7 linked regions of the Homo sapiens genome follow. The protein of the gene in region 5 purifies or fractionates together with the protein of the main gene of each other region. This does not show direct contact. Each region holds a gene or a part of one and is shown on either strand. Other genes may lie near its edges.

Region 1 (4,097 bases), on a different chromosome or scaffold from region 5:
GCTGACTGCTACCATTGCTTTTTTAAAATACTTTTTAAAAATCTAGGATGCTTTAAAATAATTTAATTGAATATACCTTTACAAAATAATTATTTCTGAAAGATTTGGTTTTAGCACTCTTTTACAATCGACCAAGTCAGCTAAAGTTTATTTATTTCTTTCTAAATTTTAATATTAACAATCCTAGCTAAGAGATGGTTTCGGATAGAATGACAAAGCATTGTCATCACTTCATCTCCTTGCTTTTTAAGCTTTTTTGACAACTTTAACAGGTACTTTGACCACAGAGTGCAATCTAAACCTTACTTCAACTTATTTTATAATAAATAAAGGATTTTTCAATTATATAATTAAGTTTTTGGTTAAAAGGACATTAAATTAATTTTTTCATCATTTCCCTGTACCCTATGCGGTTTCTCATTTTGTTAAACTTCTAAGATAGAAGGTACTGTCAGGGATGGGAAATGGATGGGAACCAGGCTTTTTTTTTTTTTTGAAAGACAGGGTCTTACTGTGTCACCTAGGCTGGTGCAATCATGGTTCACTGCAGCTTCGACCTCCGAGGCTCAAGTAATGCCCCTGCCTTAGCCTCCTGAGTAGCTGGGACCACACAGGTGCATGCCACCATACCTAGCTAATTTTATTTTATTTTATTTTTGCAGAAACAGGGTCTCACTCTGTTGCCCAGGCTGGTCTCAAACTCCTGGACTCAAGCAATCCTCCTGCCTTGGCCTTCCAAAGCGCTGGGATTACAGGCATGAGCCACCATACTTGGCCTAAAACTAAGAACTTCTGTTCATCAAAGGACATCATTAAAATGAATGGCAAGCCACTGAGTGGAAGATAGCTGCAAGATATATATTCAACAAAAAACTCCTTAGTATTCTATATTTTTTAAAAAACTCCTACAAATCAGTTTTAAAAAAAGATAATCCAATAGAAAATGGGCAAGGGACTTAAGCACTCACAAAAGACATCAAATGGGCAATAAACAGATGTAAATGCTCAATCTCGTTAGTTATCAGAGAATGTAAATTAAAACCAAAATGAAAGACCACCACCAGAACAGCTGAAATGAAAAAGACTGTTTTCCAGCATATTTACACAGAGTAGAAAAATAAAGACTCTCAAAAATATAGGGCAAAAGCAACTTTCATAAGCTCCTGGTGAGAATTTAAATTTCTACAACCACTCTGGAAAACCATCAGCATTATCTTCTTATGTGTTAAAATGGAGCAGTGATTCTACTCCAAAGTACATACCAACAGAAATGCAGGTACATGTACACCAAAAAAAAGTACAATAATGTTGATGGCAACATAATTCATAGTAGCCAAAACCTGTAGACAACCCAAATGTTTAACTACAATGTTTACATTTAGAAAGCATATTTAAGAGGTAAAACTATTAAAAAAAAAAAAAAAAAGGAAGCAAGCAAATACCAAAAATTCAGGATGGTGGTAATCCTTCAGGGGGAAAGGGAGCACGACAGTGCTAACAGTGTTCCTTTGCTTGACCTGGGAGGATTCACTTCATGATAATTTGCTGACCCGTGCATTTATGTTTTACCTTCTTTTTGTATGTGTGTTACACTTCACAGAAAAAAAGTGGGAAATAATGAGTTTTAATGCCAGCTGCTGGTTACATGGAATAAGTTAAATAAGTTACTTCTCAGTTTCCACTCACCAGCTTGAAAAAATGATGCTATGTTGAACAAATTTATCAAATTATTCTGAAAACTTCAACTATTAAATCCAGAACATATTATCCTCTCAAATTAAGGTTCTCAACAACCATACTTTATAAAGCATAATTGGGAGAATCACTTGAGCCCAGGAGTTCAAGACCAGCCTGAGCAACATAGTGGGACCCCGTCTACGAAAAATTTAAACGTTAGCCAGGCAGGTGGCGTGCGCCTATAGTCCCAGCTACTCAGGAGGCTGAAGTTAGAGGATCACTTGAATCCAGAAGGTCAAGGCTGCAATGTGCAGTGATCGTGCCACCACACTCTAGCCTGGGTGACAGAACCAGACCCTGTCTCAAAAACATACATACATACATACAGACAGACAGACAGACATAAATCATAACTGCTATTTGTGAAAAAAAAAAAAAAAAGACCAATTGTGTTACTAATAAAAACTCTACCTAGGAATTAAATAGCTGACCTGTCAAAAGTTTCCCATTTTGTTATCAACAGCATACATTTTAGATTAGTTTCTTTTGAGAGGTATACTAGAAAAGGAATTCCAAACTTACCTCTCTATTGGGTGTACCTTCATCAAGTTGCTCTGTAAATGAAGATGTCCTGCTCCTCATTCTTGTTGGTGTTGAAGAATTGGAGGACGCCTAGATTTAAAAATTATTGCACAAATTAGCAAGACTATATTGACTAGTGAACTATGAACTAGGTAGTCCTTCTCTCAGTCCATGCCCAAAGAATTCAGTGAAAGAAAGGAAAAGAGCAAAAACACGAAAAGCAGAAAAGGATAACAAATATAATCAACTAGAAAACCCAGGCTACCTACTAGGTCCCTGGCCTAACTCTGCCACCAACTAGAACTATGATCTTAGCTACATGAACTTTTTGAGGACTATGTGTCTCCATATATAAAATAAAGTTGCGATACTAGTGTAAGATGATAATATTAGAGAAAACTGAAGCCAGGTGAGGGGTATATAAAAACTCTCTGCACTATCTTTAGAACTTTTCTATAAACCAAAATTATTCCAAAATTAGAAGTTCATTTAAAAAAAAAAGGCTGGCAATTCAATCTTTAAGATCCCTTCTACCTTCTAGCTCTAACATTCAATAGTATGAAATGCACAGATAAACAGCACTTGCCCACCTAATTAATGGCCTTGCTTTGAGCCTACCTTGAATACCACTGCTAAATACTGAGATGCTATTCCATTTAGCTCTGTAATTGACAGCCTGACTCCTATAACCCTCAGCGCAAAAAAACTCAGGAGAAAGGGCTCAAAATTTAAACTAGAGGTCTGGGGTCTACTCTAAGGTGAGCTAAAAACAACCCTAAAAGTATAAAACCAAAATTTTGAAATCCCCCTACACCCACAGCAAAATAGATCTGAACTCAGATCTATTTTGAGAAATGAATGAGTCATGATATCTTACCTCTTTTTGTAGTCTGCACTTTACAAAAGGCAGTTAATAAATATTTGTCAAATAAATGAATGAATGAATAAACAAATGGAACTCTGGTCTGTGGTATCCGTGCACAAACTGCTGTGGTTAGGGTGGAACTGAGAGGTCGTGAGGAATAGTATACAAATATACACATACTCTATATACACATATATACATCCAGACAGACATATACATATTTAGCTTATGATAAAAGTAACATTTTGCATCAGGATAGACATTCAATAAATGTTGGGACAACTGGCCATCCATATGGGGCAAGACACACAAATCAGATCCTTCATACTTAAGCTATATTAAAGATTTAATTTTTTTTATTGAAATACAAAAAATTCAAGAGTCTATTTCTACAATCTCTGAATGGGAAAGAGATTTTTATGTGAAAAACAAATCAAAGCAGCAGTTTAATTGGGAGGTGAGGAAAAGCATCTACAAATATGACAAAAGTTTAATAACCTTTTTTCTATAAACAGCTCTTATAAGTCCGTAAGTTAGAACTCAGAAAACTTACTAACCCAATCTTCTTTTTATCTGAGACAGGGTAACCTGAGCTCCATCAATGAAACACATGAGACTTCGAGTCATAAGTGAGTGATGTGAAAAAACAGACATACAAATAAAGTTCATCATCTGATGACAATGGAGACAGAACTTCATGCATCCACACAAATATAAGCTGTGAAGTGACAGATGCAATGCTGGTGCCAAGCTGAAGCAGCTGCAACACAGAGTAGTCTCCCCAGTATAACTGGACGTAGCAATCAGCTCAGACTTTTGGGACCTCAGGGAAATTCTGTAGGGTAAAGAGTCTTCAATAAATTATTTTTCTGCTTACCTAGATTGACTTTTTGTTGCTTACAACCAAGAACTCCAACACCTTCTAAAAGATGAACCAGAAAAATCAATACAACAGATGAAATTAGCTATGTGC
Region 2 (4,097 bases), on a different chromosome or scaffold from region 5:
CTACTTGATGGGAATGAGGCTTTATTAACATTTGAGTGACAGAAATGTTCTGCAGCTGAATAGAGCTAGTGGCTGCACTGCATAGTAGAAGGTGTTCTAGAAACCGGTATTTCCCGCACTGTAAGTCTGACTGATCTTTTGGTGTTGCTGTTGCAGACACACATACACTTGATGCTTAGGTGGGAGAATAAGGTAGAAACTCTGGGTGATAGAACGCTGTCTTAATCCAGTGTTCCCGCAACCAAAAAATGAGTGTCGGGGCCAGGCATGGTGGTTCAGCCTGTAATCCCAGCACTTTGGGAGGCTGAGGTGGGTAGATCACTGGAGATAAAGAGTTTGAGACCAGCCTGCTACACATAGTGAAACCCCGTCCCTACTAAAAATACAACAATTAGCCGGGCATGGTGGTTCAGGCCTGTAATCCCAGCTACTCGGGAGGCTGAGGCAGGAGAATTACTTGAACCCGGGAGGTGGAGGCTGCAGTGAGCCAAGATTATGCCATCGCGCTCCAGCCTGAGGGATAGAGCAAGACTCTGTCTCAAAAACAAACAAAAAAAGAGTGTCAGACTTGTACATTCTCTCATTGCCTCGTGCCTGATCTGAAGTCTGCACGAAGACCCGCCTTCACGGCTTAGCTGGTAAGCATGTGCTTTGTTTCCTGTCTAGTGTGTACTGTAAGCACGGTCACCTGTGTCCCATCGACACCGGCCTCATCGAGAAGAATATCGAACTCTTCTTTTCTGGTTCAGCAAAACCAATCTATGATGATGACCCATCTCTTGAAGGTAAGGAATAGTCCGGGATTATGTTTGGGGCACACTTTAAAAACAGCCAGGCAGGGTGGCTCACATCTGTAATCCTAGCACTTTGGGGGTCTGAGGCCAGAGGATCACTTGAGCCCGGGAGTTTGAGACGAGCCTGGACAACATAGCAAGAGCCTGCCTCTATTAAAAAAAAATATATAGCATATATATATAGTATACATATATACTTATATATATGTATAAATAAAAAACATACTTATGAAGCAATAGTCAGCTGGAGTTGCTGCTGCCTCTTAAAGTTAGGGTGTGAGACTTTGTGCCAGGAGCAGCTGTAGGCCAAGTCATTGTGATGACTGAGGAGCACCCGACCTGGCTGATGGGATGTCTGCTGAGTGGGCGCTTAGAGCGCCTCCTGGGTTTGGGATGTGAGTCAGAGCCTTTAGTCCATTTCCTTTTTCTGCTCTAGGTGGTGTTAATGGCAAAAATCTTGGCCCCATAAATGAATGGTGGATCACTGGCTTTGATGGAGGTGAAAAGGCCCTCATCGGCTTCAGCACCTGTAAGTGTGTGGCCCATCATAGGCTGGCCGGGGTCTGAAAGGGGCCTTCATGTTCTCCTTCCTGGGGGCTGACGGGGCTCTGGTGGGAATTCTCAGCAGGCTTGCAGAAGGCCATGTGACTGGGAACCTTAGCAGGTTCAGTTGGGGTAGCCTCTTGTGTTAGTTATGACTGGCTCTGGAACTGACTCTCCAGTTGTAAGAGCAGGTCTTGGCCGGATATGGTGGCTCACACCTGTAATCCCAGCACTTTGGGAGGCCGAGTTGGGGGGATCATTTGAGGCCAGGAATTCGAGACCAGCCTAGCCTGGCCAACATGGTGAAACCCCCTCTCTACCAAAAATACAAAAATTAGCCACGCATGGTGGTGCATACCTGTAATCCCAGCTACTTGGGAGGCTATGGCAGGAGAATCACGTGAACCCAGCAGACAGAGGTTGCAGTGAGCCGAGATCACGCCACTGCCCTCCAGCCTGGGTGACGGAGCAAGACTCTGTCCTCCCCTGAAAAAAAAAAAAGAGCAGGTCTTATTCTTGCAACCCAAACCCAGACTGAATTCCAAACACCAGAGATGAGCTCAATGAAGGCCTACTCAGCTAGTCTTCGCTCTCTGGCTGGCTCAGACAGGCTTCTTCAGAACAAGCCAGCTATGATGTGTTGTGCCCTATGTTTCTGACATTTGGGTACGGGATGACTTTTAGACTGTTGGGTGAGTTTGGTAGACTCCTCCATGCCCTGTGGCCACTGTAGGCGCCATCAGATTCCAGCCCCTTTTCCACACCTCCTCTGTTCACCCCAGCATTTGCCGAATACATTCTGATGGATCCCAGTCCCGAGTATGCGCCCATATTTGGGCTGATGCAGGAGAAGATCTACATCAGCAAGATTGTGGTGGAGTTCCTGCAGAGCAATTCCGACTCGACCTATGAGGACCTGATCAACAAGATCGAGGTAAGAGATCGAGGGTCCTCAGCATCCGGGATTCCCACTGGAAACTTGCCTTCAGAACCAGCAGACACTGTTCTTCAGTTGGATTTAGGCCAGTTTGGCTTAAGCATGAGAGAAACCTGTTCTCTTTCAAGACCACGGTTCCTCCTTCTGGCCTCAACTTGAACCGCTTCACAGAGGACTCCCTCCTGCGACACGCGCAGTTTGTGGTGGAGCAGGTGGAGAGTTATGACGAGGCCGGGGACAGTGATGAGCAGCCCATCTTCCTGACACCCTGCATGCGGGACCTGATCAAGCTGGCTGGGGTCACGCTGGGACAGAGGTAAGGATGCGGCAGGGACCAGAGTGAAGACTGGAGACCGGGGAGGGTAGAGCATGGCCCACATCCTCTGTCCCAGTCCTCTGAGATGCTGGAACCTCTCCCGTAGGCGAGCCCAGGCGAGGCGGCAGACCATCAGGCATTCTACCAGGGAGAAGGACAGGGGACCCACGAAAGCCACCACCACCAAGCTGGTCTACCAGATCTTCGATACTTTCTTCGCAGAGCAAATTGAAAAGGATGACAGAGAAGACAAGGAGAACGCCTTTAAGCGCCGGCGATGTGGCGTCTGTGAGGTAACCTCACCTGTGGGTGCTCCCGCTCCCCTAAGGTGGCCCAGCCTCTGGCCTGATCTGAGGACTGCTCCATCTTTCTCTCTGTGGCTTGAGACTCTGGCTGCTCAAATGTGACCCCTGAGACAGAAATTAGTTAGTGGTCTGGGAGGACCCTGCATACTTCATTGAACGTCAATAGGACAGATGTCCACAGAGGCATGCTTGGGTGCTTTGCTGATAATGCCACTGTCCTTAATTGAAGAGCCTGGCTTCTGGGTGGCTCTGCTGTGCCTGCATCTCACAGTCTGAAGGCCCCTGTTGGACTGCTAAAGGGGTATTCACATCTAAGTGGGCACTTTGTCCAGCTTAGATTTGAGGCCCTCAGGAGGCGTCCCTTTCTGTGAGTTTTTAAAATATATGTTTACTTCACTCAGGAGGAACTAACTTCCTAGTCCTATGACCCAAAGACCAGGACTATTTTGATACCTATTACCTGACTTTCTTTTGGATAAAGACTGGCTTCAGGGCTTTGCTTTTGATCCCCGCTGGCATCTCTTAACAGGAGCCTGCATGTCCTCACCATTGTTATTTTGGTTTTATTTTATTTTTCTTGGTTAACACACGTGTGTCCAATGTTTTATAACTTCTAAAATCTTTTTTTTTTTTTTTTAATTTTTTTGAGACAGTCTCTCTCTGTCACCCAGGCTAGAGTGCAGTGGCACCATCTCAGCTCACCGTAACCTCCGCCTCCCGGGTTCAATCAGTTCTCCCACCTCAGCCTCCCGAGTGGCTGGGATTATAGGCACCCGCCACCATACCCGGCTAATTTTTTTTGTATTTTTAGTAGAGATGGGGTTTCACCATGTTGGCCAGGCTGGTCTTAAACTCCTGACCTTAAGTGATCTACCTACCTCGGCCTCCCAAAGTGCTGGGATTACAGGTGTGAGCCACTGTGCCCAGCCCTAAAATCATTTGTTTTTATTTGTGTAACTGTTACGTGTTGATACTGGTAGATCTAGTTATTTCATTTTAAATATTCTGTAGTATTTTGTTAAATGAATATCCTAACTTACTCCTCAATGATAGGCACCTCTTCAGTATTGTAAATATGTGGCAGCATCCTTGAGCAAAGCTTCTCGCGAGTGTATCTGCTTAGAAGTAGCGTTGCTGGGTTGTGGGTGTGTATTCTTAACTTTGATCTAGAAGATTGCTCTCCAAAATGGTTCTACCAACTT
Region 3 (4,097 bases), on a different chromosome or scaffold from region 5:
GGAATTCTGCGTCTCCAGAGCTGGGACAGCACAGTGACTCCACACAGGGCCCTGAGAGCGAGACTGCTCGGGCTCCATTCCTAGATCCACTGCTTCTCATCAGCTGGGTGATGTTGAACAGGCTTATTTCACCTCTCCATGCCTGTCCCTCATCCATCAACGAGGGTAATCAACAGTACCCATCTCACAGGGTACAAGACGCATGAGTATAAATATGGCATTTATTCAATTAGGGTATCAAATAGGGATAGAGACTCACTGAGCAAGCTGATAGTTCCCTTGATAGCAGACTTGAGCAGTCTAATTACTGGAAAGGCCTGGTCCCTTTGTAAAGAAACAAACTGGCATCATTCAGCTTCACGACCTCTTTTTTTTTTTTTTTTTTGAGACGGAGTCTCGCCCTGTCACCCAGGCTGGAGTGCAGTGGCGCAATCTTGGCTCACTGCAACCTCCACCTCGGGGTTCAAACAATTCTCCTGCCTCAGCCTCCCGAGCAGCTGGGATTACAGGCACGCGCCATCATGCCCAGCTAATTTTTTATTTTTAGTAGAGACGGGATTTCACCATGTTGCCAAGCTGGTCTCCAACTCCTGACCTCAGGTAATCTGCCCACCTCAGCCTCCCAAAGTGCTGGGATTACAGGCGTGAGCCACCACGCCGAGCCAGCTTCATGTTTCTTTTTTTTTTGAGACAGAGTCTCACTCTGTCGCCCAGGCTGGAGTGCAGTGGCACAATCTCGGCTCACTGTAAGCTCTGCCTCCCAGGTTCACACCATTCTCCTGCCTCAGCCTCCCGAGTAGCTGGGACTGCAGGTGCCCGCCACCACACCCCGGATATTTTTTTTTTTTTTTTTTTTGAGACAGAGTCTCGCTCTGTCGCCCAGGCTGGAGTGCAGTGGCGCCTCTTGGCTCACTGCAAGCTCCACCTCCTGGGTTCGTGCCATTCTCCTGCCTCAGCCTCTAGAGTAGCTGGGACTACAGGCGCACACCACCACGCCTGGCTAATTTTTTGGTATTTTTAGTAGAGACGGGGTTTCACCATGTTTGCCAGGATGGTCTCGATCTCCTGACTTCGTGATCCACCCACCTCGGCCTCCGAAAGTGCTGGGATTACAGGCGTGAGCCACCACGCCCGAACTTTTTTGTATTTTTTAGTAGAGACGTGGTTTCACCGTGCTAGCCAGGATGGTTTCCATCTCCTGACCTTGTGATCTGCCCGCCTCTGCCTCCCAAAGTGTTGAGATTACAGGCGTGAGCCACCGCACCTGGCCCATATTTCTCTTAATTACTAACCAGGAGGCTGGTCCACATACTCAGGACAGTAACCAAAACTGAGTCTTTGAGCGTCTGAAGGAAAAACAAAAGAGGTGGCTGCCACAAGGACCCACCTAGGCAGCCCACTGGCCTCCCTGTCTGACACTTGGCTGTACCACTGAGCTGAGCAGCATGGACCTCCCTGATGATCCCAGATGTTGTTTTCTTTCCTTCTCTGCATGATGTCTGACCAACACTCTAGCCTAGCAAGCTTTCCCTGCATGCAGGCTGCACCTGGTAGAGCCCACAGATCAGGTGAGATGTATTCCTGCTAATGTTAACCAACGGAATCCAGACTCCAAGAGCAGCGCCAGAGCTGCTGACCACAAAGGGTTACGAAGCATGCAGAATGGCCAGCCACCAAGGAAAGAACACAGACTCCCCACTGTGGGATCACTCACACTTTCCCTATAGTGTCTCAAACACAGCACCTAGGAGCTGCAGCCCTGTACTTCACTTGCTGTGGGACCTTGAACAAATCAGAAGGCACCCCAGTGTCTCAGCGTTTATAAAACTAAGGGAATGGACTAGTTCCAGCTCTGAAAATCTTACGGCCCAAACAAAGAAATATTTCTGCATTGAAAGGCTCTATTCACGCCGGGCGCAGTGGCTTACGCCTGTAATCCCAGCACCTTGGGAGGCCGAGGCGTGCGGATCACCTGAGGTCAGGAGTTTGAGACCAGCCTGGCCAACATGGTGAAACCTCATCTCTACTAAAAATACAAAAATTAGCTGGGCGTGGCGGCAGGCGCCTGTAATCCCAGCTACTAGGGAGGCTGAGGCAGGATAATAGCTTGAACCCAGGAGACGGAGGTTGCAGTGAGCCAAGATTGCGCCATTGCACTCCAGCAGCCTGGGGGAGAAGAGCGAGATGTCGTCTCAAAACAAAAAAAACAACAGGTTCTATTCAACACGACCTCTCCCACCTGCCTGATCAGACACGCAGTGTAAGAAAACATGAAATGCCATACCATGTGGTGGAGAAAGCCGCCTGAGGCTGCAAACTTCATCTGTTTAGTAGGAACGGAAGCTATACCATCATCATCTTCATCCAGGTCATATAAATTCTGAGAATATAACATAAAGAAATATAAGCAAATGTGGCATCTGGGCCCTCAACAGACATCTAGAACAGGCATGGCAAGGAAATGGCTGCTGGAGAAACAAAGGGACCAAGGAGAAGTGGGCACAGGGGTGACGGTGCCTGGAAAGACTGGGGCCCAAGTCTTCACAGGCTAACTCCCTGTCAGCAAGGACCCAGTGAAAGTCCTACAACTTCCAGATACATCAGAAGTCCCTTTTTCCCAGTGGGCAGTATGTACCAAGAGTCCCTAAAATGTTTCTTTATATCCTTTGGCTTGGAAAGTCCATCCTTGTTAATATGACCTACAGAAATAAATCCAAACCCTAGAAAGAGCTTTATTTACAAAGATGTTCACAGCAGAAGGATTTCTAACAGTGAAAATGACAGGAAAATGGTTTAAATAAAACTGGAATGCCAACTATATAGATTTTGCAGTTACTAAAACATGTACAGTAAATATGAAATGTCACAGAGAAATGCTTGAGTTACAAAGTGAAAAAAGAATGATACAAAATTGGATAAGAATATAACCATGGCTGGGCTCAGTGGCTCAAGCCTGTCATCCCAGCACTTTGGGAGGCCGAGGAGGGCGGATCACGAGGTCAGGAGATCGAGATCATCCTGGCTAACATGGTGAAACCCCGTCTCTACGAAAAATACAAACAATGAGCCGGGCATGGTGGCATGCGCCTGTAGTCCCAGCTACTCGGGAGGCTGAGGCAGGAGAATGGTGTGAACCCGGGAGGCGGAGCTTGCAGTGAGCCGAGATCGTGCCACTGCACTCCAGTCTGAGTGACAGAGCGAGACTCGGTCTCAAAAAAAAAAAAAGAATATATAACCACAACCACAACTATGAGTTAAGTAAAAAACAGACTGGGGCTGGGCACAGTGGCTCACGCCTGTAATCCCAGCACTTTGGGAGGCCAAGGTGGGCGAATTACCTGAGGTCAGGAGTTCGAGATCAGCCTGACCAACATGGAGAAACACCGTCTCTACTAAAAATACAAAATTAGCCAGGCGCGGTGACTCATGCTTGTAATCCCAGCTACTTGGGAGGCAGAGGCAGGAGGATCGATTGAACCCAGGAGTTCGAGACCAGCCTGGGCAACATGACAAGACTCCATCTCTACAAAAATTAGCCAGATGTGGTGGTATGCACCTGTGATCCCAGCTACTCAGGAGGCTGAGGTGGGAGGATCATTTGAGCCCAGAAACTCAAGGCTGCAGTGAGCCATGACTGCACCACTGCACTCCAGCCTGGGGGACAGAGTGAAACCCTGTATCAAAAAAAAAGAAGCGTACATGTAAGGAACTATGGCAAAATTTCAACAGTGACTGGCTTTGGAGAATAGGAACTTGAGGGACTTTTTGGCAAGTTTTCTATATTAAGCACATAGAACTTTTATTTAAAAAAATTAGGCCGGGCGCGGTGGCTCACACCTGTAATCCCAGCTCTCAGGGAGGCTAAGAGGCGGGAGGATAGCTTGAGCCCAGGAGTTCGAGACCTGCCTGGGCAATATAGCGAGACCCCGTTCTCCAGAAAAAGGAAAAAAAAACAAAACAAAAGACAAAAAAAAAAAAAGCGTAAAAAAATTAAAAAAAACAAACAAAACTTTTTTTAGCCTCTCTGCCCCCTATGCCTCCCTTCCTCTATTAAGAAGTTTCTTCTTGGCTGGGTGTGGTGGCTCACGCCTGTAATC
Region 4 (4,097 bases), on a different chromosome or scaffold from region 5:
CGGCCTCCCCAAGTGCTGGGATTACAGGCGTGAGCCACCTTGCCCGGCCTCATTATAGATATTCTTATCCCTATTTTACCAATGAAAAAGCATCTTGCCAAAAATTAAATGTCACAGGAAGTAAGGAATAGAAATGGAACTCAAACTCAGGAGTCAGGCTCCAGAGAAGATACTTTTACCTTTTAGAGGCATTAAAAATCATTCTGGGAGAGGAATTATTACGGAAGGTAAAGAGGGGAAGGTTTTCATTTTTCATATTGTGCATTTCTTCTTGAATTTACTGACATGTAGTACTTTTTTTATGAAGTAGTAACAGTGGTTAACTGGGTGGTAAACTTATTTATCATTCTCAGGTACTTCATTTTCTCTGTATTAAAAATTCTACTCCGTTACTGAATAAAGCTATGATATGTTAACAACAACAAAGAAAACTGGCTTGATTTGACCTACTTTAAATGAACAAGAAGAGAGACTAAGGCCATGTAAAAAAAATGTTCATGCAGATTCCTGTAAGATTTATCGTTAGACCACCACAGCTCATGTTATTAAGATGAATCACACATATTAGCCCATTGTGTTACATTCCTTATGGTAAAATAACACCTGGTCCCTCCTTTCAAAAAGCTCAAAGCCATTAAAACAATTTTTAAGGTCAACAATATTAAGGAGACACATAAAAGGTGGGTGGAAGGAACAATAAGATGGTTTGATTCCTCCATGTAGATATTAACCTCTCCTAAGATACTTCTGACTGGTCTACATAAATTGCTGATGCCAAGGTAAATTACGTGCACCAAAATTAAATTTAAAATTTTAAAAGGAAAATAAATGCAAAACATCATGTTGAGGTCCTTTGTCTTTTCTCTCTATTTAAATGTTTAGAGTAGTATAGTGCTAATAAAGTCAAGGTGAAATGTCCATCTTGCTTTGAAAAACCAATTATCTTGGCTAAAGAAACATCATTTCATAGTTGAACTGCAGCAGTTATCCCTGTGTTGGGGCCACAGAAGATGGAAGAAAGTGGGCAAATGCAATGGCACTAATGAAAAAAAAACCCAAAAACAAAAGAACCCTGTGCCCACAAATGTCTAATTAACATTGGATCAGCAATTGAAATAGGAATAACAGCAGCAGCAAACACTTGCACAGCATTTATACCACCCTAGTTGGTGACCACACAACCCATTTGTTTCTTTTCACTCTGAAAAGTGTCCTGGTTTACACAATAAATTAAATGGTCACTCAACTTCAAAGTGCTTTACATATATTATCATGTTTCATCCTTGAAACAACTCTACAAAGTGTGTACTATTATCTTCCTTTCACAGATGAGTTACTACTCACCTCTGCATTCACAGAAAAATATATACAATTACATTATTAGAAAGTCATAATGCAGCTCCATTATTCTGTCATATTATTCGTAGGCATATTAAAAACCATTATTTCACATTGCAACAAGTACATATTCATGCATTACATTTTTCTAAGTTAAAAAAAAAAGCTACCGTCAAAACCAGCAAGCTTTATTAAATAGAATGTAGAGCCACATTCCACCCCAACCCCTTTCTCCATCTCTCATCTGTTGCTCTGGCATATCAATATATCACCTAATGTTCTCTGTAGTGCAAAAAGTGCTTCTGAAATGATTTCTATCAGGGTACTAACAATATTTAGCATCCTTTAAATTAACACATACAAAATACAGTTAACATAGTTTAAATTAACAGTGACAACATCCACACTGTTTTTCAGCTAGCCAGACTGCTAGAGTTGGCAACAAGGGAAGGAGAGAAAATGGCTTTGTCACAAACTACCTGTGTGACTGCAAGTCACTAACTTCCAAAGACCTCTACTTTTTCACTTATAACATGACAGTAGTGGTGAAAATATCCAGTCTAGTAGCTATAGCTACTCTAAAGCAGGGCAGTTCCTCAAACTGAGTGCAGGAAATAAAGGGCTGCTTCTTCAAGAGCTCCCAGTCCAACTGGATACGCAGACCCAGAGGAATGGATTACATGAAGGGACAGTGATACAGGCACATCAAATTTGTAAAAGACATTGGCTCTTATGTAAGCTCCATGGACAGGTACTGGTACTCCTCCAAGAGCTTTCCAGGAGGATGAATGAGATATCAAGAGCATCCACTTCTATCTTCCACACTAACATCGCTCTAATCCAAGCCCACATTTCTCTCATCTGGAATATTTTGCATTGGACTCCCTGTTTCCATTCTTGCCTTCCTAGAATCCATTTTTTATGCAACTCAGAATGATCTAAAAGATGAATTGGATCACTAACTCTCCTGCTTACAATCCTCCTATCATTTCTAAATGCCCACAAAGGACAATTCAGTCTCCTTTCCAAAGCCTGCAAGGCTCCTCCTGAGCTCCCTTTTACCTCCTTTTGCATCGTACTCCTCTTGGCCCACCTGGATGCAGTCCTGTCCCTAGATCCAGCCCAGTGGCTTTCCTTATTTCCTCTAAAGGGTGCAGAGCTTGTTTTCACCTCGGGCCTTTGCACTAGTTGTTGTCTCTATCTGGAATACTTTCCTGGGCTCTTCATGTGGTTGAACCTGTCAGGTATCACTGCCCTCCCCCATTACTCTCTGTCCTCATTCCATCAAGTTCATTCTCAGAACTTAATTACATTCCTTTTCAGAAATTATCTTATTTACTTATTTGATTGCACACTATGGCTTCTTTCCCCAAAGCAGGGGCCAGGGCCCTCCTCTGTCTAGTTCACTGCAAAGTAGCCAGGACCTCGCATTGTGCCTAGAAGGTATGCAATAAATACTTGTTGACGGATCACACATACCACTCATTTCAGCTTGATTTTTTCAAAAGCTCAGCTGACAAAAACCATGTTTATAGAGGATTGTCTGAAGAAGTTGTAGTTTGTCTTTCCTCTATGGTCTAGATATTCAATCAAAAAACCCTGATTTGAATCAAGCCAGATCAGCAGAGCTACCCACTACCCACCTAAACCACATTGTCCATTGATTTTATTTATTTATTTTTAGACAGGGTCTAGCACTGTTGACAGGCTGGAGTGCAGTGGTGCAATCATGGCTCGTTGCAACCTCAAACTCCTGGGCTCAAGTGATCCTCCTGCCTCAGCCTCCTGAGTAGCTGGGACTACCTACAGGTGTGTTCCACTCCACCTGGCTAATTTAAGAAAATTTTTAGTAGAGATGAGTAGCTGAGACTACAGGTGCACACCACCACACACGCCTGGCTAATTTGAAAAATTCTGTAGTATAGATCATGTCTTGCTGTGTTGCTTAGGATGGTCGCAAACTCCTGGGCTCACGTGATCCTCCTGCCTTAGCATCCCAAAGTGCTAAGATTGATTACAGGTGTGAGCTACCACACCCAGCCTCTACTGGCTTTAGAATGTCTTTCTAAATTGTGATTTAGCCTTCTTTTACCTAGCAAGGGATGTGCTACAAAACAGCTCTATGATCTTCAGTGCTGAAAAGAGGTTAAGGATATGACACTGGCTTTCATTTATAAAGACCTCAATGATAAACTTTTCCTCTAGTTCAAATCAGAAAAAAAAAGTGCTTTTCCTGGGCATCTAAGATTGCCTTCTCTCATGAACACTAGATCACAGAGCAGACGAGGTCCTGCCTCTCAGAATGGCCTACTGGAGAAACAGGTCACTTACAGCTTGGTTAATTAATGTACTAGACTTTATCCTCCTGCATTTTGAGGATCACCCCACTTCTGACTTCCCTTTATTTTTCCTAATCTCAATGTTCTTTTTGTCTTGTTTTCTAATCCGTTTAATTTTTATATTTTCTCATTACAGTGAACTGCCTTAAATGTTTTCTAGCATAAGGCATATAAATAACGTATTAAGGGTGACAGCAGCAATATGCATAAAATAATATGGCTAGTAGGCAGAAGGTCAACTACTTCTAGGAAAGAAAAGAGGGGATTTTTGAGGTGGGTCTTGAGGAATAAGTGGAGTGTCACCTGATAGAAAAGGCAGGAAAAGGCAACCTGTGCAGATTAAGAGAGAAGGCAAAGTCCACATCAAAGGAAAGTGGAAGACAGATTAGTAAAACAACTCTGACATTAATATTTACTGAA
Region 5 (3,417 bases):
TTTCTGTGCGTGTTTCTTTCTAGCCCTTGTGTTCAGGCTGCTCTGGGAGTTGACTCTCTCCTGCGTCCTCTCCCCATACAGACACAGCCCCTCACTCCTGCATGAGTCTCTTTACTAGGGGCTGGTTACGAGCCCACAGCCGCTACTCAAGAGAGGTCCTGTCCTGCCACCAGGTTTGCATGCCATATCCCTTGGGACCAGATATGAGCATTAAAGTGATAAAAGGAGACCTGGCTGAGCCAAACAGAGGAGGTTATGTTCTGTCCCCGGCAGCTCAGTAGTCTCTGAGTATCCCCTCACCCGAGGCCACCTTCTTCTCCCCTCTGCCCACCACAGCCCCTTGCCTCCCTTCACACTCTCCTTCCTCCTGTCGTCTTCTCTCGCCACCACCAACCCCACAAGCCTCTCCCTCCCAAATCCTCCAAACTCCTCCCCAGGCTGAAAGCCAGTTCTCAGCCTCCCTGCCTGGAGCTGGCAAGCCTGAGCTTCCTAGAGGGGTACCTCCTGAGAGAAAGGTAGGCGGGATTGCTGAAGGCCTTGTTGGGAAGTGTGGTTCCAGGACTGCTGGGCCCCACCCCAGCCTCAGAACTTTCTTTCTCAGAACGGACACATTTTGGCTTTGGTCCTACTAGTCCTCCCACCCCCGACTTCACCCCAAACAGCCTACAGGAACCCATTGCCATCCGGGGGACCGCCCCTATCAGAATGACATCAGCAATGGCTGGTGTAATCAAAGCCCATTTGTCAGTGTGAATTCTTAGCAGATTAACTTGTCAGATTCACAGAGAAACCGTCACTAAATGTTTATGTGTAAACGATGTTGAATTTTAAAATCATGTGGATTATGGCGGATGGGGCCTGACAAGATGACAGTCTCTGGTTTCTAACAAAGTGAAGTTACCAGTGTCAAAACAGAGGATGTTTATTGTGAAAAATGTCAAAGTATCCACAGAAACCCCTGCAGACCCCTGCCAGCAATGTCGGGCCTTGGTTAGCTGACCTAAGGCCTGGGACGCTCCTGGTTTGAGGCCCAGGGCAGGAATAGTGGGGCTGCTACAGACGCAGCCAGTCAGCTGGGAGCCCCACACAGCCCTGCATACCACCACCCCAGCCACACTTATCTGCAGAGGGGCCTGGCCCAGGCAGCTGAGTAGTCTCTGAGTATCCCCTCACCCGAGGCCACCTTCCTTTCCCCTCTGCCCACAGCCCCTTGCCTCCCTTCACACTCTCCTTCCTCCTGTCCTCTTCTCTCGCCACCACCAACCCCACAAACCTCTCCCTCCCGAATCCTCCAAACTCCTCCCCAGGCTGAAAGCCAGTTCTCAGCCTCCCTGCCTGGAGCTGGCAAGCCTGAGACTGCTCAGGTCCGACATGGATATTTGCAGCCCCCCACCCCCGCCAGCCCACGCAGTCAGTGAGCACAGCAGGACACTTCCTGTGCCTTGCTGTCTGCCGGACCTGGACCTCTGTCAGGAAATGCCCAGCCTGGGACTGACGAGTAGACCTGCCACCCAAGCAGGCCTGTCAGGGTAGGGATGTCACTTGTGTGAGTGCTTGTCCCTGGCTTAAATTCTCTCCAATGTGTTAAAGATTAGGGAGTTAGGGAAAGAGAGGTAGTGGAGAGACTGTGCTTAAAAAAAAAAAAAGTCATCTAAAAAGAATGAAAGATATCTGTGCCACTATAGCAAGACCTTTTAAGTATATACTCTGAAAGTGTGGCTAATATGATCATGATGCTGTAGGAAAAAAAGGTTATATGTCCAAGTGTATGTACTTGTAAATGTGCCTAAAGAAACCTGGAAGGATACACAGGTCTTCCCTGGGGTACAAGACGGAGAACTGGGATCATCATCTTAACTCTACTCTTCCTTTTTACTCTTCTGTCCTCTTAGAGACTTTCGCCTGTATACATGGATTACTGTTACTTAGCAGGGGCGACCGGTTGGCCAAAGCCTTGGTGTGCCCTTGGCACAATTCTGCCAAGACCCTTACCCTCTCCTCTCCTCAGGGCTCCCTTAACCCCTCTCCCCACATCTGGAAAACCCTGGATACATTTTCTGTTCCATCTTTAGTTTTCTGCCTCTGGATGCGTAAAGCTTCAACCTGCTGGCTTTTAGAGGGAGAGGACTTGTTAAAAAAAAAAAAGTGGGGTGTGGGGAGAGCGGTGTTGTGATCTGGGGGCCAGCCATGTGGTAAAAAGGAGTAGAGGTCAAGGGGCTGCTTCTATTCCCTCAGTTTAGGGTCCTGGGAGGCTGACGGGTTTGGGCAGCTTTTGGGAACTAGGCAGAAGAGAGTCCTGTATGGGAGGCCGGAGTCAAGGCAGAAGCCCAGTGCAGCCCTCTCTAGGCCAGCAGGGGAGGGTCCCCGGGGCTGAGAGCCCGGACGGAGGAAAGGACTGGTAGAAGAGCCAAGACACGGCTAGCGTGGCACCCCCTCCCCAGGACCACATTCTCCAGGGTGAGAAGAGCAGCCAGCCCTCTGCCTCCTGTCCTCAGTGACAGCCTTCTGCTCTCTCATGCCCACAGAGGAGCCAATCCGGCTACTGCGGGAGGTGGTGCTGTTGACGGATGACCGGAACCTGCGTGTGAAGGCGCTCACAAGGAATGTTCCTGTACGGGACATCCCAGCCTTCCTCACGTGGGCCCAGGTGGGCTGAGGGAGCCACACTGGGGCCCCCCCCCCGTGGAACCGTTCCTGAAAGGCCACCAGGCGCCCAGTGTAGCACGGAAGATGCCCACGTGCCTGAGCCACCAATCCACCCAGACAATAAACCATCCTCTTCCAACCCACGCCACGGCCATGCTGTGGGGGACCTGCTCCTCACAGAGCCCCTCCCAAGGATCGGGCGGAAGCTGCTGGGACCCTCCTGGGCTGCCAGGATTTAGCAGGGAGGTGGCTGGCTACAGCAACAGCAGCTGGGCAAGCCAGATAGGCCGCCCATGCTCTCAGCCTTTCTCCCTCCCCCGTCTCATTCCAAGGCTGAGGGAGGGCCTTCTCGCCTGGGGACGCAGCCACTTTCTCCAGTGGAGACAGGGCAGGGGTTCTGAGTTTCCGTCAGATGCAGTGAAATCACAGTTCCCTTTCATCTTCAGAACCTCTGTCGTGAATGTGTTCAAGAGGCTTTGGTTAAGTCAGGAAGAAGTGCCCAGGGTGTGTGTCCCCAGTCTCCCTGAGGCCTGGACTCGCCCATGAACCCAAGTCGGCTTCTAGACAGCATGTCCCTAACAGCAGCCCTGGGCCCCCACCTCTTCTACCATCCACCCCAGACTTACCACACACCCTTCCTGCTGCTCCTCTTCCTGCCCTTATCAACCTGGGTCCCTCACACTTCGCCAGTTGCGTCCCCGTGGACAGTCATGAGTCTAGAGGAAAGGGGCATCTGGTCTCAGGCCCGTGCTCTCGGGTGGCCTCCACCTG
Region 6 (4,097 bases), on a different chromosome or scaffold from region 5:
ATAAATAGACTTTGAGAAGGAAAGGTCTCAAGGGTGGCTCACTAGATACTTAAGTCATAGATTGATCAAGTATCTCTGCATGAGGTTATTAGCAAAACATTTAAAAAGACACTTTAAGACTTCTCTCATTAGGGACTAAACCAGAAAGGTATAGGGCTCATCCTTCATAAAAATCATGAATAAGCAATAAAAAGGGTAAAATGGAAAACTGGAATCTATATTTGAATGTGAGATTCTCATCTTTTTAGCTTTAAGATTTTTTAAGTTTTACCAGTTTTCCTCAAAGAGAAGATGAAGTTACTTCAAGAGAACTGATTTCTGTCATGTGAGTGTAGGTAAGAAAATTCTTAACTACTTTGAGATATTTTTCTTCAGATTATTAATGAGTTTTTTGCACCACTAGATAGAATTTCCAAGATTTTCCTGCTTACTTTTGGAAACATTGTCTCTACCATTACTGAATATTAAATAATAGCCATGTACCCCTCCCTCACACCATATACGAAAATAAAATTATTTGTGGCCTAAATGTAAGCGAAAAATCTATAACCTTGTTTAGGTAATGGTTTATTGATGACACCAAAAGCTCAAGCAGCAAAACCAAAAATTGACAAATTGGGCATCATTAAAATGAAAAATCTTTGTGCTTCAAAAAATGCCATCAAGAAAATAAAAAGACGGCCCACAGAACAGGAGAAATTTTTTATAAATCATATATCTGATAAAGGATTTGTATCCAGGATGTATACATAACCCTTAAAACCCAACCACAAAAAGAGCCCAATTAGAAAATAGGCAAAGGATAAATATCTATCCAACGTGGATACGCAAATGGCCAATAAGCATGTGGAAAGATGCTCAGCATCATTAGTCCTTAGGGAAATGCAAATCAAAACCACAAGATACTACTTAACATCTCCTAGAATGACTGTAATTCAAAGATGGACAATAAGATGTGTTGGGTAAGATCTGAAGAAATTAGAATCCTCATTCACTGCTGAGGGAATGTAAAATAGTACAGTCACTTTGGAAAAATTTTGGCATTTTCTCAAAAAGTTAAATACAGAATTATCATGTGACCCAGAAATTCTACTTCTAGCTACAAACCCAAGAGAAATGAAAACATAGATCCACACAAAATTTTGTATGTGAATGTTCATAGCAGCGTTATTCGTAATAACCAAAAAGTGGAAACAATACAGGTATCCAAGAAATGATGAATGGATAAACAAAATGTGGCATATTCATGAAATGGAATACTATTCAGCTATCAAAAGTAATGAAGTATGAATACATATTACATCATGGATGAGCCTTGAAAACATGCTAGAGAAAGGAAACCAGATGCAATAGGCCACATATAGATGATTCCTATAAATTTTCCCATTTATATGAAATGTCCAGAATAGGTAAATCTGCAGGGACAGAAAGAAGATAAATCGTTGCCACTGGCTATGGAGAAGAAAGAATGGGGAGTGACTGCTAATGGTTTTGGGGTGTTTTGGTGGGGAGGGGAGGTTGAAAACGTTTTGAAATTAGGTATTACTAGTTATACTACCTTGTAAATATACTAAAAAGCCACTGAATTGTACACTTTTTACATTACACTATGTAAATTGTACATCAATAAAGCTGTAATTTTTTAAAAGTATGGATAGTGTCATGTACACCCATGTTAATAATATGGTACTCTGTTATTCCTAGATTTCTCTTTTGACAGTAATAAATTTGATTTCTTTTGCAGCAACAAAATGCTTCAACAAGTTCCAGAAAACATAAATTTTCCTGCTGAAGAAGAGAAAATCTTGGAGTTTTGGACTGAATTTAATTGTTTTCAGGAATGCTTAAAGCAATCAAAACATAAACCAAAGTATGTGAATTTTTTAGGTTAAGTTCCCTTAAGAATAGTCATTTCTTAGACTGAATTCCATTAAAGCAGATACTTTTTTTTTTTTTTTTTTTTTGAGATGGAGTCTCGCACTGTCATCCAGGCTGGAGGGCAGTGGTGCAATCTCTGCTCACTGCTACCTCTGCCTCCCGGATGCAAGTGATTCTCCTGCCTCAGCCTCCCGAGTAGCTGGGATTACAGGTGCCCGCCATCACACCAGCTAATTCTTGTGTTTTAGTAGAGACGGGGTTTCACCATGTTGCCCAGGCTGGTCTCGGACTCCTGACCTCAAGTGATCCACCCACCTCGGCCTCTCAAAGTGCTGGGATTACAAGTGTGAGCCATCACGCGCGGCCTAAAGCAGATACTCTTTATTAATCTTTCTATTCCCAGAATCCCCCAGCTCCCTATGTAGTGGGTACTCAGTAGTAGATATACATTGAATGAATGAGTTCTCAATTATTGGGGTAAATTTTGTTTCTTTAAAAGGTCATCTGAGTAAAATTTATGTGTCATCCTCCGTGTCACCCTCTTTCCACCTTTATTTTCATCACCACCCTCGTTTAGGCACTTATACCTAAGTACCCCATAGAAGGCTACTATAGTACTACCTGCCTTTAGTCCTCATTCACCTAAAAGACTAGTCCTTTAATCAGTGTTTTCATTATATGTCTCCTCTGGTCAAAAACTATGAGATAGGGGTTTATTGCCCTATTTTACTGATGAGATAACTCAAGATCAGGATAAATAATTTGCCTTATGTCATGGAACTAATAAATGAAAAATGGATAATCAAATGGAGGTCTCTGTAGCTCTACCACAATTGTAGCCTTTCTGAAGGCAGGACCACCAGTAAATATCAAATCAATTATGTCTGTCGGTTTCCTGATCTTGCTGCTTTTCTCCTTGAAGACTCCACTATGACAAGAGCTATCTATAGAAAAATGCCTTAAATTTTGGCTGTTTTTAAATGGCTTGATATATTTTTATTACCTGTTAGATTTACCTTCTATGATGGTCCTCCTTTTGCAACTGGACTGCCTCACTATGGACATATACTTGCGGGTACAATTAAAGATATAGTTACAAGATATGCTCACCAGAGTGGGTTTCATGTTGACAGAAGATTTGGATGGGATTGCCATGGCTTACCTGTGGTATGTTTGAGTATCCAGCTTTATAATTTTCTGATTTTTTTTATAAGCATTAGATTTTGTCATATAATATGTTCAAGTATGATGAACGTTGACTGTCAGACCTTCTAGTTCATTTCTATAATATTTGTAGTTTGATTTGTTTTGTTTTCTAGAGTTGCATAGTTGCAGTTGTTTTCATAGGGCAGCGTGGTAACAGTCTTATCACAAATTTTCAGGAATATGAAATTGATAAGACACTGGGAATCAGAGGACCAGAGGATGTGGCCAAAATGGGGATTACAGAGTATAACAATCAGTGCCGAGCAATTGTGATGAGATATTCTGCTGAGTGGAAGGTATGTTGGGTTTTTTTCAGTAGAATGAACAGCAAATGTAGTTACTAAATGGGCATTGAAATGGTTTATGGTCCCTTGTGCTTTTTTTATTAATTTATTTTTTGTAGAAAAAGTGTTAGCTTCCACCTTCAACCCTATTACTTAAACGGTTAGCTTAAACTGAACCATCTCTCTTCTGACTTCTGTGTGCTTAATTGGTCTAACTTTCTTGCATGATCACCAATAGGGAAAAATTCTAATAAGTATAACATGATATATAGGCCTTTTCTTTTTTTCTCAAATACTTTTTTCAATTTTTTTAACTTTTCATTTTGAAATAATTTGACTTATTAAACAATTGAAAAAGTAGTATGATGGGTTCCCCTATATCCTTCATCCATCTTTCCCAGCTGCTAACATCTTCGGTAACCATAATATTAATAGAATTTTCAAAAGCAGTTGCCCCATTAATTTTTATTTCTGACCAATCACATATTGCATTTGGTTGTCATGTCTTTTTAGTCTTCTTAAGTATGGAACATTTATTTAGTCCTTTGTATTTCATGGCCTTCTCACTTTTGAAGATTGCAGAACAGCTATTTTCTATAATGTCTCTCAATGTGTGAGGTTTCCTGATTTAATTTAGGTTATGCATTTTTGGTGACAATGCCACAGAAGTGATGCTATGCCCTTCTCAATGCATTATATCAGGTGGCATGTGTTGCGGCTATGTCACAT
Region 7 (4,612 bases), on a different chromosome or scaffold from region 5:
GACAGGGAACAAATGAAGGATGGGAAAGTGCTGCACCAGGCACCCCTCACCCCCATGCCCAGCTGCCACCAGTCCTCTGGCCAGGGCTCTCGCCTGATGTCCCAGGAATGCCAGGAGAAGGAGAGCCAAAGCAAAGCGAACCTACCTGCTTCTTCCCCTTACACACAACTGCAACCACTCCTGGCTCGCCGCTGCTGCCAGCTTGGCAGTGCACCCCCATCCACTCCCCCTTCCCCGACCCCCCCAATTCCCCCTCCTCAAAAACAACCCTTGCAATTATACAGAGGCTACGTGGGGCAAATTGCCTCCTGGAGAAATTAAGCCTCTGCAAGTATAGACGTTTTAACAACCACCCCATCTAAAGGGGGAAGGGTGTAGAATAAGCGATTGCTGTGGCTTGGTAAAGGATCGAAATGTCAACTGGCAAAAAAGACCTTGATCAAACCAAGCTCAAATCTAGCTGCAAAACATTTTGTTTTAAACGCAGCCGGCGAGTCTTCTTTGGTGTTACAACGGCGAAAAATAAAAGAGAAGTCCTCTTCCCTTCCTCCAAAGAGGCATCCCTCTCCCAAGGCGAATCCCACTTTAATTTCTATTCCCCCCCCCCCAAAAAAAATCATAATAAATCCACAAATTCTTACTAATGTATCTGCTGTAACAAAGGAGAGATGGCAACAGCAATTGCTCCGAGCAGATGGCTCCTATGCTGGGTTTTCAGGGGAGGGGAGAACCACTTTATATATTTATTTATTTATTTAAATTTTTTAAAATATAACATAAATATTCGGCTCTCGGCCGCCCGGCAGCCAGTCCTCTGCGGTGACTGGGCGCGCAGCCCTCTCGAGCTCCGCGCGGGCAGCCCGGCCCCAGCCCGGCGAGGTGCGCGGCGGATTGCAAGCATATAACCTGCCCGCGGTCTCGATGGCACCCAGAGGATGTTTTATTTCTATTGCAGTTAAAAAAAAAAAAAAAAAAAAAAAAAAAAAAAAAAAGGAACGGCGACCCAGGCACCGCGAGAGAAAGAACGGCGGGGAAATGTTCGCGCGCAGCGAAGAAGCCGCCCCGCGGGCTGCGGCGGGCGGGGAGCGCCGCAAAGCCACCTTCCCGGTGCAAGTGTGCGGGGACTCGGGGCGGGTTCCCCTGCAAACACCGTACCTGGCCCGCTCGCGCTCGCTTTTCCCCTCTGCTAAATAAACCCAACAGGGACGGTGGAAGCTGCTGCTTGTCTTGCCCCGCTGCCTGACTTTGCCCGCCCAGCCACATGCTTGAAATCGACACGATTTCAGCCGGTGGATTTCCACTGCGACCTGCCTTGTTTATTTAGATAGGAAAGATGAAAGATACTGAGATAGAAAGATGGATACGAGATTGATGGGTCTCCTTTTTTTCTTTTTTTTCTTTTACTATTTTACAAGCGCATCACTCTCTTCCCACTCCTAACTGACAACCTTTTTTTTTTTCCTCGTGGCGGGGATTTTTCACCAACCCCAATCCCCCCACCTTTTTTGAAGTGGGGGAAAGAAGACAAGATCATCCCAGGAGACAGACGGAGGTGGGGAAGTGGGGGGTGGGGAGGGGGGCTTGAGCCCGGCAAACAGCCGCGCAGCTGGATTATTTTGCAAATAGCAGGAGGAGGGGAGAGAAAGGCGGCTGCGGAATCCTAGGACTGGCGCGGCCGGCACCCTGCTGGGCCGGGCGCAGGGACCGGGGACCCGGAGCCGGCGGCCGCCCCTGGCCCTACGGCTCCCCCAGCCGGAACGCACCCCGCTCTCCTCCGCCCGCGCCGTCAGCGCGGACCCACGCGCTCGCCAACTTTTCCCCACTTCCCGGCTCCCCCTCCCCCTCCGCTCCCCCAGCCCCCTCCCCCTCCTCTCCAAACCCCGCCACCAGCGCCGCCGCCGCCACACACGCCGCTCGGAGGGGCGAGCGTCCAGCCGGGCTCGGCGCGCACACACACACACTCCTCCAGCCTGCATGCCCCCTCCCCGGCCCGGAGCCGGCTCCGCAGGCCCCCGAGCCCGAGGCGCGTCCGGCTGCTCGGCGCCCCAACTCCCCGGGCTGCAAAGAAACTTTCCTATGGCCCCCGCCCCCCGCCATGCTCCAGGCCGACGCCGTAGACTCTGCCAGCCAGCGGGCGGCCCCGGCGCCTGGCCAGGCTCGGCTGTTCCGGGCTCGGTGTCCCCAGCCCCAGACGCCCGGAGCCCCATCTCCGGCCCCTCGCGCGCACTCCGCAGACACTTACGGGTGATGAGCTCCCTCTGGGACAAGTGCTGCGGGTTGCCCTGTTTGCGGCGGGACATTGCCCCGGCATCTATTCTGGCATCGCCCGGAGAGCTGCACTGATGGGGGGAGCCGGGGGAGGGGGTCCGAGCCGCCGCCGCGCCGCTGCCGCCGCTGCCGCCGCCGCCGCCGCCGCCGCACCTCCTCCTCTGCCCGGGTTGGTGTTTTTTTTCCCTTCCTCTCTTTCCCTCTCTTCCTCCTCTTCTTCTTCTTTATTTTGCTCTTTCTTCTATGCTGTTTTTTGTTTTGTTTGCAAAAAGAAAAAAAAGGGAAGAAAAGCAAGAAAAACCTCTCGATCTAAAATAAGAAAAAGAGGCAAAAAAAAAAAAAACTGCTGTTGCTTTCCGCGGACTGGCTGGTTTCTTTAAAAATATATTCTTTCGAAGGAAAAAAAATCTCTTACACTTCTTCAAACTGCTTGGCCTCTTGCACTTGCAAATGTCTTCTTGAACTTAAACTGGGTTTTGCACCGGCTCCTGACACTTTCTTTCAGGGTCTGGTAGGTGGAAAGCGCACTTCTACCAGGAGGGGAAAAAAAATGCAAACAAATAAAAAAATAAAAGAAGAAAAAGCAAAGGAAAAAAAAAAGCAAAGAAAACTTGGGGACTTGTCTCGTACCCCCTCACCCCGCCCCCTCAAAAAACCCAAAGCAATGTAAAACTGCCCCGGTTCGGTTGTTTCTGGGTTTTCTGCGGGCTGCCTGTTTTTGTTTTTGTTTTTGTTTTTTCTCGGAGACTGACCCTTCCGAGGCTCTGGGGGGACACCAGGAGAGGCTCCTTCCCAGTTCACCTGGCAGGCTGGCGCCGGCCGGAGGGGCTGCCGAGTCCCCGCGAGCGCTCCCCAGCGCTCCCCTGGCGCCGCGGGCCCGGGGGGAGCGGGGCGGAGGGGCGGCTCGCCCAGTGCGCCTGGGTCGGTGCGGGCGCAGACTGGGAGCTATAGATTGCAACGTGAAGATGGCGGAGTCCGGGTTCTCTGGGAGCTCTCGGTCTCTCTATGGCTGGGGCTGCCTCTGTACAATGGGATAAAATTCAAGTTCAAGTGCGGACGTGACGTTTAATCTGCACTAGAGACAAAAAGACCCAGAGAGTCGGAGCACTGGGGGCGACTAGCGGTGGCTTTTTAACATTGTACCCTGTAAGAGAACAAGAAAGCACACACAGAGACACACTCGCGCGCGCGCGCACACTCACACACACACACACACAGTCGCCAGTTGCGCACACCCGCAGCCCAAGCCGGACACACGTGCAAACCGCGTTTTTGTGCGCTCATCTCCCCCGAGCCCCGGCTGCGCAACAGCGGGAGGGGGTTGGGGGGGGCCACTGGGCAGCTTATTTTAAAATAAAAGAAAAATCGTCCTTATATCTCCTCCATCCTGGGAGCAGGACCCCCTGAGAAGGGGGGCGGGGTGCTGTGTGAGTGAACTAAATTGAATCAATGCAAGTCTCCACCCACCCAAAAGCTCTTTCGGACTTGGACTTTGGGGGTGGGGGCGTGGACTGTGGAAAAGGGTTGGGGTCGACATGGGAGTTGGGGGGACAGTAAGAATCGCTTCGTTTCCCTGGAAAAGTCGCTTGGTAGTTTTTACTTTTGTTTTATGGTCGCGGGCGGCGAGGGGAGGGGAGTAGATGTTGGAGTTCAACTTCCAAAAAGTGTCTCCATATAAATCCTGGTATTACAGACTCTGGGAGGGTGAGGATGACAAAATAAACGACACTAAGACAACAGAATCAAGAGCACGTGAGGGGGTGAGAAGTGTTTGAGACCTTGTTTGAGTCCCACTTGGAAAAGGATTTTCACTCAAATCTTTGTCCCCTCCCCTCACCTTACCCCGATTAACTCCTGGGGTCAAACACGACCCCACCTCCTAAACTGGGTCTATGGCAAGCGAGAGGGTAAAGGGACCGGGGCGCTCCACGTGGGAGAGGGACTTGGACTTGCCAGCCCAGGAGTAGGTGTGGCCAAATCTCCGCAGATACTCGGGTGGGTGACTCCAGGAGGCGCCCCTGACAATCACAGCAACCTGGAAGTCACACCCCGCCCCCCGCGCTCCTCGGCCCAGGGTAGGACTTGGAAATGCCTGTCAGACTGGGAAGGACGCAGCTGCCTTGTCAGCCGTTTGATCTCCAACCGGCGAGGACAAGAGGAGTTGTGGGGCCTCTCCGTGGCCCGGGGACAAGGCCAGACCACGGCCCCCGTGGACACCCCCCATTCCCCAGGCTGTGGCCAACTTTGTCAATTTGATGACCTGGCCTCCAGGGCTGGGCGCGCCACGCGGCTGGCCTCCTCTCCCTTCTCAGGGTTTCTCTGGAGGCGGCCAGGGCGGGTCGGG

The links.
Region 1: the proteins of HIC1 (region 5) and GOLGA4 purify together in Homo sapiens (affinity purification with mass spectrometry, with the first as the bait; one large-scale study listed by BioGRID). This does not show direct contact.
Region 2: the proteins of HIC1 (region 5) and DNMT1 purify together in Homo sapiens (affinity purification with western blotting; one study listed by BioGRID). This does not show direct contact.
Region 3: the proteins of HIC1 (region 5) and POLDIP3 purify together in Homo sapiens (affinity purification with mass spectrometry, with the first as the bait; one large-scale study listed by BioGRID). This does not show direct contact.
Region 4: the proteins of HIC1 (region 5) and THOC7 purify together in Homo sapiens (affinity purification with mass spectrometry, with the first as the bait; one large-scale study listed by BioGRID). This does not show direct contact.
Region 6: the proteins of HIC1 (region 5) and IARS1 purify together in Homo sapiens (affinity purification with mass spectrometry, with the first as the bait; one large-scale study listed by BioGRID). This does not show direct contact.
Region 7: the proteins of HIC1 (region 5) and BCL11B purify together in Homo sapiens (affinity purification with western blotting, with the first as the bait; one study listed by BioGRID). This does not show direct contact.

Annotation. Positions count from the first base shown.
Region 1 is NC_000003.12:37,249,647-37,253,743, reverse strand, and holds part of GOLGA4 (golgin subfamily A member 4), read right to left. Parts: intron 4,047-4,097; exon of another isoform or gene 4,002-4,046; intron 2,350-4,001; coding exon 2,260-2,349; intron 1-2,259. UniProt on the Homo sapiens protein: Involved in vesicular trafficking at the Golgi apparatus level. May play a role in delivery of transport vesicles containing GPI-linked proteins from the trans-Golgi network through its interaction with MACF1. Involved in endosome-to-Golgi trafficking.
Region 2 is NC_000019.10:10,153,079-10,157,175, reverse strand, and holds part of DNMT1 (DNA (cytosine-5)-methyltransferase 1), read left to right. Parts: intron 1-666; coding exon 667-785; intron 786-1,230; coding exon 1,231-1,323; intron 1,324-2,119; coding exon 2,120-2,271; intron 2,272-2,402; coding exon 2,403-2,590; intron 2,591-2,696; coding exon 2,697-2,883; intron 2,884-4,097. UniProt on the Homo sapiens protein: Methylates CpG residues. Preferentially methylates hemimethylated DNA. Associates with DNA replication sites in S phase maintaining the methylation pattern in the newly synthesized strand, that is essential for epigenetic inheritance.
Region 3 is NC_000022.11:42,597,414-42,601,510, forward strand, and holds part of POLDIP3 (polymerase delta-interacting protein 3), read right to left. Parts: intron 2,381-4,097; coding exon 2,285-2,380; intron 1-2,284. UniProt on the Homo sapiens protein: Is involved in regulation of translation. Is preferentially associated with CBC-bound spliced mRNA-protein complexes during the pioneer round of mRNA translation. Contributes to enhanced translational efficiency of spliced over nonspliced mRNAs.
Region 4 is NC_000003.12:63,856,969-63,861,065, forward strand, and holds part of THOC7 (THO complex subunit 7), read right to left. Parts: intron 4,029-4,097; exon of another isoform or gene 3,677-4,028; intron 1-3,676. UniProt on the Homo sapiens protein: Component of the THO subcomplex of the TREX complex which is thought to couple mRNA transcription, processing and nuclear export, and which specifically associates with spliced mRNA and not with unspliced pre-mRNA.
Region 5 is NC_000017.11:2,060,731-2,064,147, reverse strand, and holds the end of HIC1 (hypermethylated in cancer 1 protein), read right to left. Parts: 3' UTR 2,657-3,417; coding exon of another isoform or gene 2,526-2,656; 3' UTR 907-2,525; downstream 1-906. Other genes in the region: SMG6 (telomerase-binding protein EST1A), read left to right, coding at 2,526-2,656. UniProt on the Homo sapiens protein: Transcriptional repressor. Recognizes and binds to the consensus sequence '5-[CG]NG[CG]GGGCA[CA]CC-3'. May act as a tumor suppressor. Involved in development of head, face, limbs and ventral body wall.
Region 6 is NC_000009.12:92,287,074-92,291,170, reverse strand, and holds part of IARS1 (isoleucine--tRNA ligase, cytoplasmic), read left to right. Parts: intron 1-248; exon of another isoform or gene 249-335; intron 336-1,744; 5' UTR 1,745-1,751; coding exon 1,752-1,870; intron 1,871-2,888; coding exon 2,889-3,045; intron 3,046-3,197; coding exon of another isoform or gene 3,198-3,260; coding exon 3,261-3,380; intron 3,381-4,097. UniProt on the Homo sapiens protein: Catalyzes the specific attachment of an amino acid to its cognate tRNA in a 2 step reaction: the amino acid (AA) is first activated by ATP to form AA-AMP and then transferred to the acceptor end of the tRNA.
Region 7 is NC_000014.9:99,268,919-99,273,530, forward strand, and holds the start of BCL11B (B-cell lymphoma/leukemia 11B), read right to left. Parts: upstream 3,280-4,612; 5' UTR 2,301-3,279; coding exon 2,243-2,300; intron 183-2,242; exon of another isoform or gene 146-182; intron 1-145. UniProt on the Homo sapiens protein: Key regulator of both differentiation and survival of T-lymphocytes during thymocyte development in mammals.